4 linked regions of the Homo sapiens genome follow. The protein of the gene in region 2 interacts with the protein of the main gene of each other region in a biochemical or structural test. Each region holds a gene or a part of one and is shown on either strand. Other genes may lie near its edges. The genes, in order: PAK1, MYLK, CALM1 and CTTN.

The links.
Region 1: of the proteins of MYLK (region 2) and PAK1, one has a biochemical effect on the other in vitro, tested with the Homo sapiens proteins (one study listed by BioGRID).
Region 3: the proteins of MYLK (region 2) and CALM1 are reported together in a solved structure, tested with the Homo sapiens proteins (2 studies listed by BioGRID, with this or other methods).
Region 4: the proteins of MYLK (region 2) and CTTN form a complex in vitro, tested with the Homo sapiens proteins (one study listed by BioGRID).

Annotation. Positions count from the first base shown.
Region 1 is NC_000011.10:77,351,834-77,356,322, forward strand, and holds part of PAK1 (serine/threonine-protein kinase PAK 1), read right to left. Parts: intron 4,010-4,489; coding exon 3,835-4,009; intron 1,767-3,834; coding exon 1,703-1,766; intron 1-1,702. UniProt on the Homo sapiens protein: Protein kinase involved in intracellular signaling pathways downstream of integrins and receptor-type kinases that plays an important role in cytoskeleton dynamics, in cell adhesion, migration, proliferation, apoptosis, mitosis, and in vesicle-mediated transport processes.
Region 2 is NC_000003.12:123,612,441-123,616,321, forward strand, and holds part of MYLK (myosin light chain kinase, smooth muscle), read right to left. Parts: intron 1,910-3,881; coding exon 1,665-1,909; 3' UTR 1-1,664. UniProt on the Homo sapiens protein: Calcium/calmodulin-dependent myosin light chain kinase implicated in smooth muscle contraction via phosphorylation of myosin light chains (MLC). Also regulates actin-myosin interaction through a non-kinase activity.
Region 3 is NC_000014.9:90,400,029-90,404,517, forward strand, and holds part of CALM1 (calmodulin-1), read left to right. Parts: intron 1-36; coding exon 37-67; intron 68-1,230; coding exon 1,231-1,374; intron 1,375-3,833; coding exon 3,834-3,940; intron 3,941-4,350; coding exon 4,351-4,486; intron 4,487-4,489. UniProt on the Homo sapiens protein: Calmodulin acts as part of a calcium signal transduction pathway by mediating the control of a large number of enzymes, ion channels, aquaporins and other proteins through calcium-binding. Calcium-binding is required for the activation of calmodulin.
Region 4 is NC_000011.10:70,415,018-70,419,506, reverse strand, and holds part of CTTN (src substrate cortactin), read right to left. Parts: intron 3,845-4,489; coding exon 3,790-3,844; intron 2,495-3,789; coding exon 2,384-2,494; intron 1-2,383.

The sequences.
Region 1 (4,489 bases), on a different chromosome or scaffold from region 2:
AGTTTCTTTTTAATTTTATCTCTTTTGGTGGGTCTTTAGAAATCTCATTTTTTTTTTATAGAGAGGTATAACTTAATTTGCACAAATCTTAAGTGTACAACTTGATTTTTATATATGTACACACCCATGTGTTCACTACCAAGATCACCCCCAAAGATTCCCTCATGACTATTCCTACTCAACATCCTCCTCCCAGAAATAACTACACTGTTCTGACTTCTATTATCATACATTAGTTTTGCTTGTTCTTGAATTTCATATAAATAGAATGACATAGTATCTGCTCTTTTATATCTGGCTTTTTTCACTCAAAATAATGGCCACTTTCAAAAGACACTACAGTCATTACCCCCGAAGATTCCTTCATGCCTATTCCCACTCTACATCCTCCTCCCAGAAATAACCACTATTCTGACTTCTATTATCATATATTACTTTTGCCTGTTCTTGAATTTCATATAAATCAAATGAGACAGTATCTGCTTTTTCATATCTAGCTTCTTTCACTCAAAATAACAGCCAAACACTTTAAAAACACAAGACAGTCATGTGTCACATAACGACGTTTCAGTCAACGATGGACCGCATATGATGGTGGTCCCATAAGATTATGATGGAGCTGAAAAATTCCTATCACCCAGTAACACTGTAGCAGTTGTAACGTCATAGCACAATTACTTTGTTTTTTAATAAATGTACAGTCTAAGTGTACAGGGTTTATAAAGTCTACAGTAGCGTACACAGTAATGTCCTAGGCCTCGACATTCACTCACCACTCACTGACTCACCTAGAGCAACTTCCAGTCCTACAAGCTCCATCCATGTTAAGTGCCCTACATAAATATACCTTTTTTTTATCTTTTATGCTGTATTTTTACCGTATCTTTTCTATGTTTAGATATACAACCACCATTGTGTTATAATTGCCTACAGTATTCAGTACAGTAACATGCTGTACAGGCTTGTAGCCTAGGAGCAAGAGGCTATACCATATAGCCTAGGTGTGTAGTAGGCTATACTATTTAGTTTTGTGTTCACTCTATGACGCTCACATGACAAAACTGCCTAAGGATGCACTTCTCAGAACATATCCCCTTTGTTAGGCAACATATGACTATACAATTGTTTGCCTATCTTTTTCTGTTGACTTGAGGTCCTTGGAAGCAGAGATTGTCTCTGAATTCATAGTGCCTTGCACACAATAGGAACTCAGTTAAGACTTGCTGAATTCATTACACTGAGGGCAGCATATAAGATACAGAGAAGGATGAATGCAAGAAGGATAAATTCTGGCATCTACCTAGAAAAACAGGTCCTATCACAGTAGTAGAAGGATTTATAGTTTTGGGTCTTCCATTTTATATTAGTGCTGGTGGATCTCAGCACTAGGACAAACAGGGTTCATCCGGAAAAGCAGAGTTGTAATTTGGGAAGTTGGTTTTGTGCTAAGAAAAAAAACCGTTCTCTCACTGTCACTGCAGGGGTATTTTTAGCAACATGGTCAGCTAATGGCATCTCTCTCATATTAAGCATAATTCTGCCAAATCTCAAGTCAGTCTCACATAACAACTCCAGATGGGTGAGGGGTAAAGTGGAGAAAGAAGAACAAGGTTTATGAGAGGCAAAAAAAAAGCAAAATCATATATGCCGGCACACACACTTTAAAGTCATTTCTCCAGGGAAAGAAAATGCCCCTACTAACCCTTGTCCAATCTTCTCAAACCGTGTATATTTCTTCTTAGGATCGCCCACACTCACTATGCTTCCTTTGAAAGAAACAGAGACCATGAATCATTTTTTCCCAAATCAAGATACAAAAAAGGTTCCACATTTCCCCAACCCCTGTAGCTGGCAAGGGTTAAAGAACTACCTCCAATAGCCAAAAAGCATGCTAAACAGGCCCTCAGCTTTTCCCCCATAAGTCTCAACCAAAAGTTTCATCACCTTGACTGCTTTGATTCATAGTAAGCTATTCCATTTCTAAACTCCTAAAAGTCATTCATTTTTTAATTAATCCATTCAGTAAATATTTACTCATTTAATACGCACCAAGCCATATGTTGTGTTAGGAATGAAGAGATATGACACAGTCAAGGCAGTCCCTGCTCTCAAGAAGGTCAATTTCATGGAGGAGACAGATAAGTAAGCATAAAGTTCCATGAAAATATAATAATTGCTGTGATAAAAGCCAAAGGGGTACAGAAAGAGGCACACACACACAAAAAAAAGACTGGAAAAACTTCAGAAAGGTGATATATGGACTGATTTCCACTTTAAGTAAAAGCCAGAGAGATAAAGTAGAGAAGAGGTTTACAACAAAGAATATTTCAAGTGCAACGACATAGAGGTTTTCCACTGGGTTTTATAACTTGTATTTTAGAGATGGAGAAATTGAGGCCCACAGAAGGGAAGAAGATACTTCCCCCCCAAGGTCACACAGCAAATTGGTGTCAGAGCTAAGATTAGGAGTTTCATTTTTAGTCTCCCGGTCCAATGTGCTCTCCATTAATACCCAATTACTAGGAATTGGTACTTTTCACATATATTACCTCATTTGATTTGCAAATGAGACAAGTATTAACATCCCTATTTTAAAAATGAGAAAAATGAGGTTTAGAGAACAGTAGAAAATTGCCTAAGACACAAGTCAGTGGCTGAGCAGAAGCTTCAACTCAAGTGTCCTAACTCCCAGGCCAAGTCTTAATTCTAAGTCATAATTCTAAGTGTTATTGTTAAAACAAAACAAAACAAAAAACTCTGGTTTAGAGAACAAGACTACATACAGGAGTAAACAGATGACTAGGTAAGTGGCTTTTCTTACTTTGTCATTTTATGAGGGATCCAGAAAAGGGCAATTTTTAAAACAGTGAAAATTTGTTTTAAAGTCATATAGGAATTAATCAGGAAGAACTAGAGAACCACAAAGCAATGCCAGTTTGCAGACGTCGCCAAATCGGTCACATCAAATCCTTTTTGGAAGTAAGTAGATACAGTGAATAAATTAAAGCCCTTGTCAAATGATTCTTCCAAGCCCACAGATCAACCTAGTTCTTCCTTCTAACATGAATTCTTCTGCAGTTTACTGAAACACAGAAATAAGCTACCCTAACATACCCCCATTTCTGGCAGCTAAAGAAAGTAAAATGGAAGTTTCCACTTGACAGCAAGAGGCAGTATGCTCTACTTACAGGAACAAAAACTGTGTTCTAACCTCAGCCATGTCACTTTTTAGCTGCGTGATTTTGGGCAGGATATTTAGCCTCCCTGAGCCTCAGATATCTTCATTGCAAAAATTAGGATCATAATGCTTTTCTTCACAGGGTTAATAAGAGAATTAAATTTAAAAAAAATCAAGAAAATATTTTGCTTGTCATTTGATACATACTATAGGTTCATAAAATGTTAACTTCCCTTCCCTCTTTTCCTACAACCAAGATGGCAGATGCGTCTTCTCCTAGGTCAATGGCAAAACATCAATAATTGATCACAGTGCCCTTTTCCACTAGGTCCTCAGTCTTTCTCAACATGGCATTCTAGGCTATTCATTAGAGAAAAACTATTTGTCTTCGCTATAATACATGCCTAGGGGTGAGGGATGCCCTGCCCTCAAAGTAAGCTATCCACACTCTCACCACATCTCCATCCTAACATAGTATCCAACCAGGGCTGTGAGACAGGGAAGGGAGGTTCAGGGGCAGGGTGAGGAGAAGCAGTCTGTGCCTAAGGTACCAAGCATGGCCAGCCAGCTGCATGGACCAAGCCTACGACCAGCAAATCTCTGTGCTTGACCAGTCATAAAACGAAGAAAGGTTCAGAAAGCTACAAATTCCTTACGTAATTTCTCCAAGATCTCCTCATCAGACATTTTAGGCTTCTTCTTCTGCTTCTCAGTATTCCGGGTCAAAGCATCTGGTGGAGTGGTGTTATTTTCAGTAGGTGAAATGGGAGATGTAGCCACGTCCCGAGTTGGAGTGACAGGAAGTGGTTCAATCACAGACCGTGTGTATACCTGCATTATTAGTGCAAAATTTTGGCAAGACCAGCCTTTGTTAGCATAGGGGAACCTCTCCTAGATGTGAGGTTAGAACATCCACAGAGCAAACCCCAATAAACTCATCCTTTCTCTTATGTCAAAATCTATATTACTCCTCCTCTGTGCCCAGGCCCACCCATTCTGGGTAAAATGGCCTTCCTTACTCTCACTGTAAACAAAAGAAGTGAGAGTCTCAGCACTAAAGATATTCAATAGAGGCTAGACAACTATCAAAAGAAATTAGTTAAAGACAATTCTATTAGATAAGAATCCCCTTCATCTGTAATATTTTATGCTTCCCCAAGCTAAAAGAAATATCCTGTATTCCCCAAGCTAAAAGAAATATTCTGTAACAAAAGAAATTAGTTGAAGACAATTCTATTAGGTAAGAATCCCCTTCATTTGTAATATTTTATGCTTCCCCAAGTTAAAAGACATATCCTGTAGTAATGCAAA
Region 2 (3,881 bases):
CATATACGCCACACATGCACACACACAACATACACGCACACAAAGGTTATATTCTGAACACAAAAGTGATAGAAAAAAGCTTTGAATGCGCTAAATCAAATAAAAACCCTTTATTATAATAAACTGTGGCAATACTGTGGCTATCATGAAAAATATTGTAACTATTTTAAAAGCAAAAGGAAAAATACTGGCAGTTTGAAACTAGCAGCAAAAAGCAGATAAAAATAGAATGGAAGATAACATAAGACTAATATCAAAATTCTAATGTTGATACTGTGTAGGATTGCACTGAAGTAATTTTAAATTGGTTCTTAAGGAACTCTTAAAAAGTCCCTTAAAAATATTAAATTGTTGCACCTTACAAACAGTGGAAAAGAAAAAAAAAGTATTTGGAATGTTACACACACACACAGAGGAAATGTATTAGGTCTATCATCAATTATGGTCTTTGTTTATGACCTTCAAAAAGCTTTATAAAGAAAAAATTTAAGTGCCAATGTAGTGAAAGAAAGTTAAAAATTCCTAAAGACGCAAGTCTGAGTGCATTTACCAGGTCTAAGAATATATTTAAAGGTTGGGGGCAAGGCATGATTGATGCACATTTAAGAAGAAAAATATGGAACCCATAAGGTAGGTCAAGTTCTTTGGAGAGTGTTGAGAATGAAGATGTATTAAACTCTGGCTATCTTGGAGGAGATTCCAAAGTACATGGAGTTCTCCAGCTCTTTATCAGTTGAAATCTGTTTCATCGTGGCCAATAGATAATTAAGACTAACTTTTCAGCAAACTGATTTCTCCTATATTCAAACACAAAAATCTTTACCACACGTTCAGAGCTGATATTCTATAACAGCACAAATAAGAATCCTGGTTTACAAAGGAAACCACATTAGCAAGGATTTTTTTTTTCCCATGGGTTCTTAACCAAATGTCTGAAGCTGCTAGACATCTGCAAAGAGGGGATAAGTTTAGATTTCCTACTGATTTTGGAAGAAAAATATTTTCCTAAGGAAGCCAGAGTCATCCATGAGCAGGGACCTGTCTTCAGAATCGAAGAAGCATAATGTCCTTAATGCTTACACTCATGACAAGTTGAGAGTCAGCAAAACTGGCAGGTGGAAGGGGAAAGAGAAATGGAGAGTTTGAACATCTGCAGTGTACTTTGGAATAAAGTGGCTCAACTGCTTTCAGAAATGAATTGCTGGAGTACTGGGAGAAAACCCAGTTCTCTAGAGTCAGGGGGTGGGGAGAGAGAGGCCTCCCATCCCCAGGAACCCTCTGGGCTGAGCTGTGGCCCAGAACTCTTGTTTTGGCCTTATTTTTCATGAGCGCATTCAAGTGGAGAATTTATGACTTTGCCCAGATAAATATTTGGTTTGGTTACTTTCTCTCTAAAATCAATTGGTCAGTCAAGTTACTGGTGATTTCCCTAAATGAAATCTAGCTGCACTAGTATCTTAAGGTGCCAACTAACATAGATTAATGCCCATCAATAACGCTGCTAGGTATCAACTGCTGTTTCTGAAGAATCAACCCACAAATGACCTAACCGATAATCTATCACACTAGGTGCTTTTACTATCTTGAGTTTTTTTTTTTTTTTTGAGTTTTAGAGAAATAGTCCTTTTAATATGACTTAGAAACTGCTTTTCTCTGGCTTTGTTTCACTCTTCTTCCTCTTCCCCTTCCCCTTCACCTTCCTCCATCGTTTCCACAATGAGCTCTGCTGTGCAGGTGGCTTCTCCAAGACTGTTGACAGCCTTGCAGGTGTACTTGGCATCGTCATCCCCGCAAACATCACTAATAATTAAAGAGCAGTTCCCGTCCTCATCGTAGTCTATCTGGAAGTGGCGGGACTCCCTGATTGACTGGTCATCTTTGAACCAGACAACCTCGGGGTCTGGGTATCCTGCATCACAGGGAGAGAACACAAGTTGCAGGAACTGTTATTCAAAATTTCTTATCAACTCATGCAAGCAACTTGTAAGCTACCACTATTGATTAAGGTGGTTAAGGAGAAAATTTTGATGTTGGCCTTTATCGACTGTTTTGATATCTACATTAGAATATGGACATGTCTTGTAAATACCAATATCTGAAACCCCAAATAGAATATTTTAAAGTTGTTCCATTTCCCACACATGTTGGACTAGCACCACATCCCACCTATTAAAAAACTTATTTAATAGTTTTTTTATTTTTTTAAAGTGATGAGTCTCACTCTGTTGCCTAGGCTGGAGTGTAGTGGCATGATCGTAGCTTACTGTTGCTCAAATTCCTGGGCTCAAACGATCCTCCCTTCTCAGCCTCCTGAGTAGTGAGACTATAGGCATGAGCGACCGTGCTCAGTTAAACATCACACCTTTCACTTTTTGGGGGGTAGGGGGGCAGGGTCTCATTCTATCACCTAGGCTGGAGTGCAGTGGCATGAACATGGCTCACTGCAGCCTCAACTTCCTGGGCTCAAGTGATCCTCCTCCCTCAGCCTCCCAAGTAGCTGGAGCTATAGGTACATGCCACCATGCCTGGCTAATTTTTTAAAAAGTTTTTTTTTTGTAAAGACAGGGTCTCCCTATGTTGCCCAGGCTGGTCTCAAACTCCTGGGCTCAAGTGATCCTCTGACCTTGACCTCCCAAAGTGCTGGGATTACAGGTGTGAGCCACCACACCCACCCATCTTTAAACAGACATAGAGTACTACCTGAGGCTAGGCATGGTGGCTCATACCTGTAATCCCAGCACTTTGGGAGGCCAAGGTGGGCAGGAGTTCAAGACCAGCTTGGCCAACATGGCAAAAAAATAAAAATTAAAAATAGAGTACTACCTGAAATACTGCTCCAATTCCAACTCTACACCTAGATCTGAATACCTTCTTAGATTGAAAATACAATTTTCTTTTTCCTTTTTTTTTTGAGACAGAGTCTCACTCTGTCGCCCAGGCTGGAGTGCAGTAGCGTGATCTTGGCTCACTGTAACCTCCGCCTCCTTGGTTCAAGTGATTCTTGTGCCTCAGCCTTCTGAGTAGCTGGGATTACAGGTGCACGCCACGACACCCGGCTAATTTTTGTATTTTTAGTAGAGACAGGGTTTCAGCATGTTGACCAGGCTGGTCTGTATCTCCTGACCTCAGGTAATCTGCCTGCCTTGGCCTCCCAAAGTGCTGGGATTACAGGTGTGAGCTACCTGTGCTCGGCCGAAAATACAATTTTCTATCTTTTTTTTTTTTTGAGACAGAGTCTCACTATGTTGCCTAGGCAGGAGTGCAGCAGCATGATCTCGGGTCACTGCAACTTCCAATGTCCAGGCTCAAGTGATCCTTCCACCTCAGCCTACTGCATAGCTCAGACTACAGGTACACACCACCACACCCAGCTAATTTTCGTATTTTTTGTAGAGATAGGGTTTCACCATGTTGCCCAGGCTGGTCTTGATCTCCTGGACTCAAGTGATCTGCCTGCCTTGGCCTTCCAAAGTGTTGGGATTACAGGCGTGAGCCACTATGCCCAGCCTAAATTTTCAATTTTGTATAATAGTTTAAGTGAAATAATTTAAATGAAAAATAAGAGTCAAAACAAAATGGGAACAAGGGATCTTTTTGGAGTGATGAAAATGTTCTAAAATTGGATTGTGGTATAAATTCATTAAAAATAATTGAATTGTGCATTTAAAATAGGTGAATTTTATAGTATATAAATTATAACTGAATAAAGCTAATAACAGCTATATAAAACATAATTTAAAAGAGCTGATAATATTGCTAAGAAGAAGAAAGCAATATTTGTCTTAGTCTGATCCAAAGCAGGTAATTTGCCTATGGACAATTGGAAATGGACCTCACCAATGAGCCTTTATGCATTAGTCATATCTCTGCAAAGTTCAGCA
Region 3 (4,489 bases), on a different chromosome or scaffold from region 2:
GTGGACTGAATGATAACCTTTTCTTTCTTCATATAGGCTGATCAGCTGACCGAAGAACAGATTGCTGGTAAGTTGACAACTCCAAGGAGTCCCCAGAAGGCCAGAACTAGGCACTGACTCAGTTTTGGTGACTCCTCTGTTCCTCCCCGCTACAGTCTGGGCAGTTTTCTAAGAATTTATTTAAATAAGAACAGTAAGCAGAAACACTGAGGTCAGATGTTATTCTTGCCAGTACTTTATAGATGAGGTGAAAGGAAGTAAAACTAAGGATGCCCACATGTTAAACTCTGGAGAATTTGACCATGTTTCACAATGTGCAAAGTTTGCGTATGATTAATTGTACTGAGCCTGCTACTCAGCGGTTTAGTTTACAATTCTTATGCCATGGGTCTTTCAGTAATCTGCCACGAAAGCTTGTGCTCGCTATCCTAAAATAAATGGAAATGGGTGAATATGAGTGTTAGGACCACTGTAGTAATTGGGAAGAAAGTTACATTAGTTAAACTCTGTTGCCCAGGCTGGTCTCTAACTCCTGGGCTCAAGCAATCCTCCTGCCTCAGCCTCCTGAGTAGCTGGGACTACAGGCATGTGCCACCACGTCTGGCAGATTTTAGCTTTTTAATATTCCTGGAGGACTTGTTTTGAGACTGTTTCTCGTTAGGAAACCAGGAATGCTTCTGAAATATTCTAAAAGTCATGTGGAGAGAGTTTACCTGGGAATGTACATTTCTAGTAACCATTTTATTTGTTATGAAACAAGGGATTCTTATGGCTTTAGAAATGTAACAGGAAGGGATTTGAAGGGGGCACATGGACCAATCTTGTCAGATTGGATTTAGTCCCTTGAACCTGGGAGGCAGGGGTTGTAGTGAGCTGAGATTGCACCACTGCACTCCAATCTCGGTGACAGAGCGAGACTCCATTGTTTAAAAAAAAAAAAAAAGATTGGATTTAGGACTAATTTAAGCATGTTCCAGCTTAGCCGCCTTGAAACCTTTGGGAATATTGTGGTGTGTGGCACTGTTTATTGGGAGCAGTGTTTGCTTTATGGGCTGCTGTATGAAGGCCAGTCCAACAGGACTATTGTGGTCATTATTTCAGTAGATAAAGACCAGACTTCTGATACGTTGCACAACTTGAATGGCTGGCTTTGGCAAGCCCCCGGCAAGTGTGTATTGTGACTGGGTTGGATAAAGACATTGATTCTAACGGGTCAACTTTTGTTTTCAGAATTCAAGGAAGCCTTCTCCCTATTTGATAAAGATGGCGATGGCACCATCACAACAAAGGAACTTGGAACTGTCATGAGGTCACTGGGTCAGAACCCAACAGAAGCTGAATTGCAGGATATGATCAATGAAGTGGATGCTGATGGTAAGAGCTTTAAAACCATGAATGAGGGCCATTGTTGTGTAATTCAAGTTCAGACATGTTACAGGATTGTCTTTCAGGTCCCCAGAGCAAAGCAAATGTGCAAAGATCCTTTCTGTGGTTGCCCCAGGGCCATTGACAATTAAAATAGAAGATGATGGGCCTTGCGTCCATCCTGCTTAGTGTCTAGAATGTTTTCTGCATGGGATCACTATTGTTTTCTTCCTGCTTGGTGCGACCTAGAGCTCAAATCTATTTTTTTTTTTTTTTTTGGAGACGGAGTCTCGCCCTGTCGCCCAGGCTGGAGTGGCACTGGCGCGATCTCGGCTCACTGCAACCTCTGCCTCTTGGGTTCCAGCGATTCTCCTGCGTCAGCCTTCTGAGTAGCTGGAATTACAGGCGTGTGTCGCCACGCCCAGTTAGTGTTTTGTATCTTTAGTAGAGATGGGGTTTCACCATGTTGGCCAGGCTGGTCTCAAACTCCTGACCTCGTGATCCGCCCTCCCCGGCCTCCCAAAGTGCTGGGATTACAGGCGTGAACCACTGCTCCTGGCCGAGCTCAAAGCTTTTATCAACTGGCCCATGAGTCTGCACTGAGTCTTGAGGGGGGAGGTGAAATTAAATAGCCATAGAAAGTGCTTTTTAACAAACTTACTGTGTTTAAAGAGGAGGAGGAACCCCCAGATGAAGTAGGTGACGAGCACTCTTAGAAGTTACCATAAAAGTGAGTACAGTGTGAGCTGTAGATGTGTTTGCTGCAGAGGAGCATGTGAGGTTTGGAGGCGGATGTGTGGTGACTCCAGGGGATAGATTTGCAGAACCTAACGGAAAGGGAAGCTGTAAGGTGCAGGGCCAGAGGGAACCAGCAGTAACCCTGATAGCGGTCTGTCATCTGTTCCTCTCGACTCTACAGCAGCGGACAACAGAACTTTGATTGCTGATTTCCATCAGTAAGCAGGCTTTGAAGCACACTTCCCCACCCCTAAAAAAAAACCACGTATTTTGGTAAATCCTATATATATTCTAATGTACTGTATGACAGTATAGAACATGATTTTTAAAAGATGAGTTGGGAGGAGAAAAGGATAAAAGAAAAAATAAAAGAAGCATTAAGAATAAACAATTCGGATCTAGATTTTACTTTCTAGATGATTGACTCGAGGGTGGTGTAGTAAAATCGCTTGTCTGGTCACAAACATTTGGCAGCAGAGCTTTTGATTAGGTTCTTTGACAAAGCCTTCAGCACGTTAGAGTGGTTTTCACTAATAGTGTTTTGGAAAGAAAAGGTTGTCCATAGTTCTCTAGTTTGCTAAGATGATCAGCTACCCAGGAACGTGGAGTAACTTCCTCTTGTTTGTGGGAGCCCCGGGAATCTGTGCCTGGGGAGGGGAGAAGTCTGTTAGGCTCTTGGATTGTGTGGAAGAAGGAGAAGTTGTGCCAGGCTACAGAATCCTGTGTTTGCACTGAGAAAACAGGATGGTACCTGACCTTCTCTGCATGGCTGTGAGATAGCTTAAAATAATTTCTTTTGTTTTTGATGAATATGAACAATATCTTAAAATTTTTGAGGCTAAAAAAGTCTTGAAGGGATCCCTGAGGTATTTTCTTTGAAAGGTACTGGTGAAAATGAGTAACTTAACCTAAGGGTTTTTCTTTCTAATTTTATTTCCATTTAGTTCAATGACACTGTTAGTCTGGAGTGCTTGTCTTTGGGGGTATTCATCTCTTAGTTTTAAAGAGGAGTTGTTTGGAGTACTGGCCGTAGAACAGATTGTTCTGACAGTTCCCTAAGTGTTACTAGTCTGAGCTGTGAGAATGCTCCTGAGCTTTTCCCTTAATGGGAAATAAAGATACTGAGTTGGAAGAAAACAGGTGGCTAACCATCATAGCGTGGCCAAGAAATGATCCTGGAGAAGACTTGGTAAGACTTCATGGCCCATGCATGGCATAACAGAATCAATGTTCCTCTCTCATAATCTTTTCTCCTCTGAAACACTTTATACACTTAACCTGCAGCTCAGTTCTAGGCCTTTTTTGTGTTACTGCTGTCACTAACCAAGGCAGAGTGAGACCTGAGTGATTTCCCTAACTCAGGGATGGCAGTCGGGGGCGCTTTCTTCCCTCGGAGTGGAAAGATTCAGCCTGCGGAGTGGTGTATGCTATTTTTCTCTTGAACTGTACAGCCCTTCATGACCCTTCCATGGGCTTGAATCCAGATGTGCAGTTTCCTTTGTATAATTAAATACTATCCTGGGCACTGATGATGAGTTTGAAATTATGTGAAATTGCCCTGTGAAGTGTTTGAACGTTTTAGACCTGCAGATGATTGAACCTAGTAAGATAGTCTGCCCCTTTGTCCTAGTACATGTTTACCGTTCCGTACAGTGGTTCTGAAATGATTACTGCAGAGCAGCGTTAATGGAGTGCTTACTTTACATGAGCTTTTTGTTTTTTAATTCGAGGTAATGGCACCATTGACTTCCCCGAATTTTTGACTATGATGGCTAGAAAAATGAAAGATACAGATAGTGAAGAAGAAATCCGTGAGGCATTCCGAGTCTTTGACAAGGTAATCCAGCATCTACATAGCAGATGGTACTTAAGTATGGCTTCTTCCGCTTTCACTTCTAAAAGCTATAATAATGTTATAGACAGAAGACTTAAATCTAACTGCCTGAGCCTCTGATCTCACTTTCAAAAATCCTCCTTATGGTAACCGTATCAGGGGAGGGTAGGCATAATAAATAGGAATTTTGGACCATGTTTCTTGACTGTTACTTTGAATTGTTGTGAGCTTTTGCAAATCCTGTTTTCTGCATTAGCTGTTTGCATGTATTTAGTAGGTTAGAGGTGGGAACTAGAGATCAGAGAATTGTTTATGGCAGCAGAGTTAGCAGTAACTTGAGAGGGCATAGCTAAGTCAAAGACCTACTTCCCCACACTACATCATTAGCAATAACAATTGCTGAATGTTCACAGGATGGCAATGGTTATATCAGTGCAGCAGAACTACGTCACGTCATGACAAACTTAGGAGAAAAACTAACAGATGAAGAAGTAGATGAAATGATCAGAGAAGCAGATATTGATGGAGACGGACAAGTCAACTATGAAGGTA
Region 4 (4,489 bases), on a different chromosome or scaffold from region 2:
CACTTGAGCCCAGGAGGCGGAGTCCAGCCTGAGCAACATAGCAAGACCCCATCTCTAAGTTAAATCATTAGCTAATATTTTAAAAATTCAAAAAACAGGCTGGGGGAGGGGGCTCACGCCTGTAATCACAGCACTTTGGGAGGTCGAGGTGGGTGGATCACCTGAGGTCAGGGGTTTAAGTCCAGCCTGACCAACATTATGAAACCCCATCTCTACTAAAAATACAAAATTAGCTGGGCGTGGTGGCCCACACCTGTAATCCCAGCTACTCGGGAGGCTGAGGCAGAAGAATCACTGGAACCCAGGAGGTGAAGGTTGCAGTGAGCCGAGATTGCGCCACTGCACTCCAGCCTGAGCAACAAGAGTGAAACTCCATCTCAAAAAAAAAAAAAGAATTAAGAAAAAAAGTTTTTTTTTTTAAAGTACAGCAGAGGCTGGACACAGTGGCTCACACCTGTAATCCCAGCACTTTGGGAGGCCAAGGTGGGCGGATCATGAGGTCAAGAGATCAAGACCATCCTGGGCAACATGGTGAAACCCCGCCTCTACTAAAAATACAAAAATTAGCTGGGCTTGGTGGTGCATGCCTGTAATCCCGGCTACTCAGGAGACTGAGGCAGGAGAATTGTTTGAACCCGGAAGGAGGAGGTTGCACTGAGCTGAGATCGCACCACTGCACTCCAGCCTGGCGAGAGAGAGAGACTCCGTCTCAAAAAAAAAAAAAAAAGAAATAAAGTACAGCAGATGAATTCCTGTAACATCATCCATTGCATCCAGAAGCTAGCAGGAGATGAGAGTTTATGATAAGGCTCTAAGCTCAGGAGGCAGCAGAAGGGCAAGGCTTTCAAAGGCCACTCTTCACAAACTGAAGCACGCAGGGGGATGCCAGGAAATAGGACACACACAGCATCCTCCAGAAACTTCAGTTCTACTCAGAATGAAGCCATTTAGCATGTCACTGTGACACCAAAACATGACTCTCTCATGGACCCACTAACAGCACAAGGCAGAGGATCAAGGCCTGGGAGAGAAGGCCTGAAGCATCCAAGGAGCCTTGCGTCTGCCCAGGTGCTCGGCCTGTGCTCCCTGGCTCCCTGGAGTCACACACTCATGCAGCTTCGCGGAGCATGCGCTGCTCACAACTGTGTGGTGTCGGGAAGAGGAGGAATGGACTGTTCCCAGGAAAGAGGCAGAGAGCAGAGGCAAGCAGCTCTGTGCGGCAGGCAAGGCCTGACCGGCAGGAAGGCAAGGCCAGGCCAGGCCGCGACAAACTACAAGCCAAGCTGCCCTCCAGGCCACCGGCACTTTCCTCAGGGAAATGCCAAGCCAGCATGGTCGGATCTTCCAGTGGTGTTTCTTGCTTTGGGGTAATTTTTTTTTTTTTTGAGTTTTTAAATAGTCAAGCTCTCACTTTTCAAATGTTGGCAAATATTTTTAAAAATTTAAATGTGCAGGCCAAACAAGAGGCACAGGGAAACAGGCAGGCCACAGCCTCTGCAGCCCTGGGAAACGCTCTGAGTGATGGTGTACAGGCTATGCAGTGGGGAAGGAAGAACTCAGCACAGCCTCCAAGGACAACTTGGCAGTATCTATGGAAATTTTACATTCAATAGCCTTCGACCCAGCAATTCCATGTCTAGGAGTTGATTCTTTTGAATAATCACTTGTGAACAAAACACAGGTACAAGAATGTTCCCTGCAGTCAAGTTTCAGCTGGGCGCAGTGGCTCACACCTGTAATCCCAGCACTTTGGGAGGCCAAGGCAGGGCGATCACCTGAGGTCAGGAATTCAAGACCAGCCTGGGCAACATGGCAGAACTCCGTCTCTACTAAAAATACAAAAATTAGCTGGGCGTGGTGGCGTGTGCTTGTAATCCCGGCTAGCCGGGAGGCTGAAGCACGAGAATTGCTTGAACCAGGGAGGTGGAGGTTGCAGTGAGCAGAGATCACGCCACTACACTCCAGCCTGGGCAACGGAGCGAGACTCCGTCTAAAAGAAAAAAAAAAAAAATTTACAGGTCACACCTGTAATCCCAGCACTTAAGGAAACCAAGGTGGGGGAGGATTGCTTGAGACCACGGAGATCAAGACCAGTCCGGGCAACACGGCAAGACCTCATCTCTACCAAAAATAAATAAATAAATAAATAAATAACCTAAATTCCACATTCAAAAAAGGAATGGTTACATGGACTATGGAATCCTCATACGATGGGGAACTGTGCAGCCATTCGAATTAGGAAAAGCCCACATACACTGGTACGAAAAGAACACCAAACATTTTCAGTTAAAAAATCTACAACAATCACGTGTGCAGAGAGAAAATGCCCTCGTGGGTGTTTCTGGAGCAAACGCGTGATTACAGACCGTGGGGTCCGCCCCACCTCTCTGTGACTCGTGCTTCTCCGTCTTGCCCTGGTAGTCGAAGCCCACCGCGCTCTTGTCTACTCGGTCGGCCTGCACGCCATACTTGCCGCCAAAACCACTGGAGTAGTCTGGAGAGACAGGGCAGCAATTAGCACGGGGGCCTGAGGACGAACTACACTGTTCCTTTTGTTAAACTAAGCAAAAGTGTGTAGGGGTTACAACTCACAAACACATCAAGCGCACATTTTAAAATGTACAACAAGCCACCCACTGCTCCATACAGGTGACGCTGGACCCTGTTTCACAACAGGTGCATGGGGGGGTTCTGGGCCCTGTCAGCTGTTACAGGGCAGTTCCTTTGTGTAGTCAGAAATGACGCTGCATGCCCACTTTGAAAATCAACTGCTCAGGTAAAAGCTGGAAAGCTTCATACAAAGAACCAGCACTTTGGAGGCTGAGGTGGGCGGATCACTTGAGGCCAGGAGTTTGAGACCAGCCTGGCCAACGTGGCAAAACCCCATCTTTACTAAAAAATAGAAAAACTAGCCAGGGGTAGTGGCACACACCTGTAATCCCAGCTACTTGGGAGGCTGAGGCAGGAGAATCGTTTGAACCCAGGAGGCGCAGGTTGCAGTGAGCCGAGATCGTGCCACTGCACTCCAGCCTGGGCAACAGAGCGAGACTCTGTCTCAAAACAAACAAACAAACAAAACAAAATGAAAAAAATGGAAAGAGAAAGCCTCATATGAAGAAAGCCATGCAGCTGAACATGGGAGACAAGACCCTGATCCTCCGCCTGCCCACACCACAGCTACCTCCACCTAGACTGCACCGAGACTGCGTAAGGACTGAGAGCTTGTTCCGCGGATGATGCAATGACACAAAGGAGGAAGAACTAAATAAGCTTGCAAAAAATAAACTGAGAACTTTAAGGTGGCGATATGCTTTGGTCTTTCAAAAAAGAGACTGCATGATGTAATCAAGATTAATCACCAGCAGTTAAGACCGTATGTGTATAAGGAAAACAAGAATTTAACAACTCTGGTTTCTAGCCTTGGGGGGAAGTTAGCTTTCTGCCGATCAATCTGTGAGCTCTCTTTTCCAGGAGGAGCGCTGCCCAGATGAAGGGAAGGCGGCTTCCGCTACAAGGGGGAGAAGCCCCACAATGACAGCAGATGCCAGGGCTCCGAGGGGGATGTGTAACGGGGAATACATCCATCATGTGGTATCCAGATGATCCAGAAACATGAAGAGGAGGGCAGAGTCCTCCTTGTGGCAACAGCCACCGCTCAGGAAACGGCTTCAGGTGGCTGTGACTCTCCCCATCAGGGCCCCCGGAGCGCGGGGAAACGGCTTCAGGTGGCTGTGACTCTCCCCATCGGGGCCCCCGGAGCGGGCTCTTTCTGCACCTTTCGCGTCTTACCTTTCTGGGAGGCATGCTTCTCAGTCTTCCCCTGGTATTCAAAGCCTACAGCAGACTGTGACGACCAAAAACACATGAAAAAGTGGGGAGAAATACTTTCCAATGTCCCTGAAACAATCTCTCTGAATTCATGACATGACATTTAAAAAAATATGAAACACATGATGCTGTGACCTCTGGGTTCCTAAGCCAGGTGCAGGTGGCAGTGACGCAAGAGCTCTGGCATCCTAAACGGACAGGCCCACTGCAAGGCCCAGTGGGCGGCGCAGGCCAAGCCATATCCCTGGTGACCTGCCCTCCCCAGCATGCGGCAGCAGGGAATGCTCAGCTGATTCATTCCACGGGCTTCACAAAAACTCGCTTCTCAAATAAGTCATGCTGAGAACATTAGTATTAGTAATGAGAATAGCAGTGGCCACCAGGGGTGCACTCCCACCAGCCAGGCACTGCGATGGGCATCTGAGCAAACACCCGTGAGATAGGTATGATCATCCTCCTTTCACAGACACATAAATTCAGAACCGTGGCTAATATGTCACAAAGCCACAATCTGCGACCAGCATCAGCTCCCTGCTCCCTCCAGGCTCCTGATCGCTCCTCTATTAAACAAAAGAGCCAACAGACCCGAGCCGAAGAGAATCAAAGAGGCTCGGGCCTAGGATGACTGCAACAACACCTGGACGCAAAGCCTGGGTCCTGG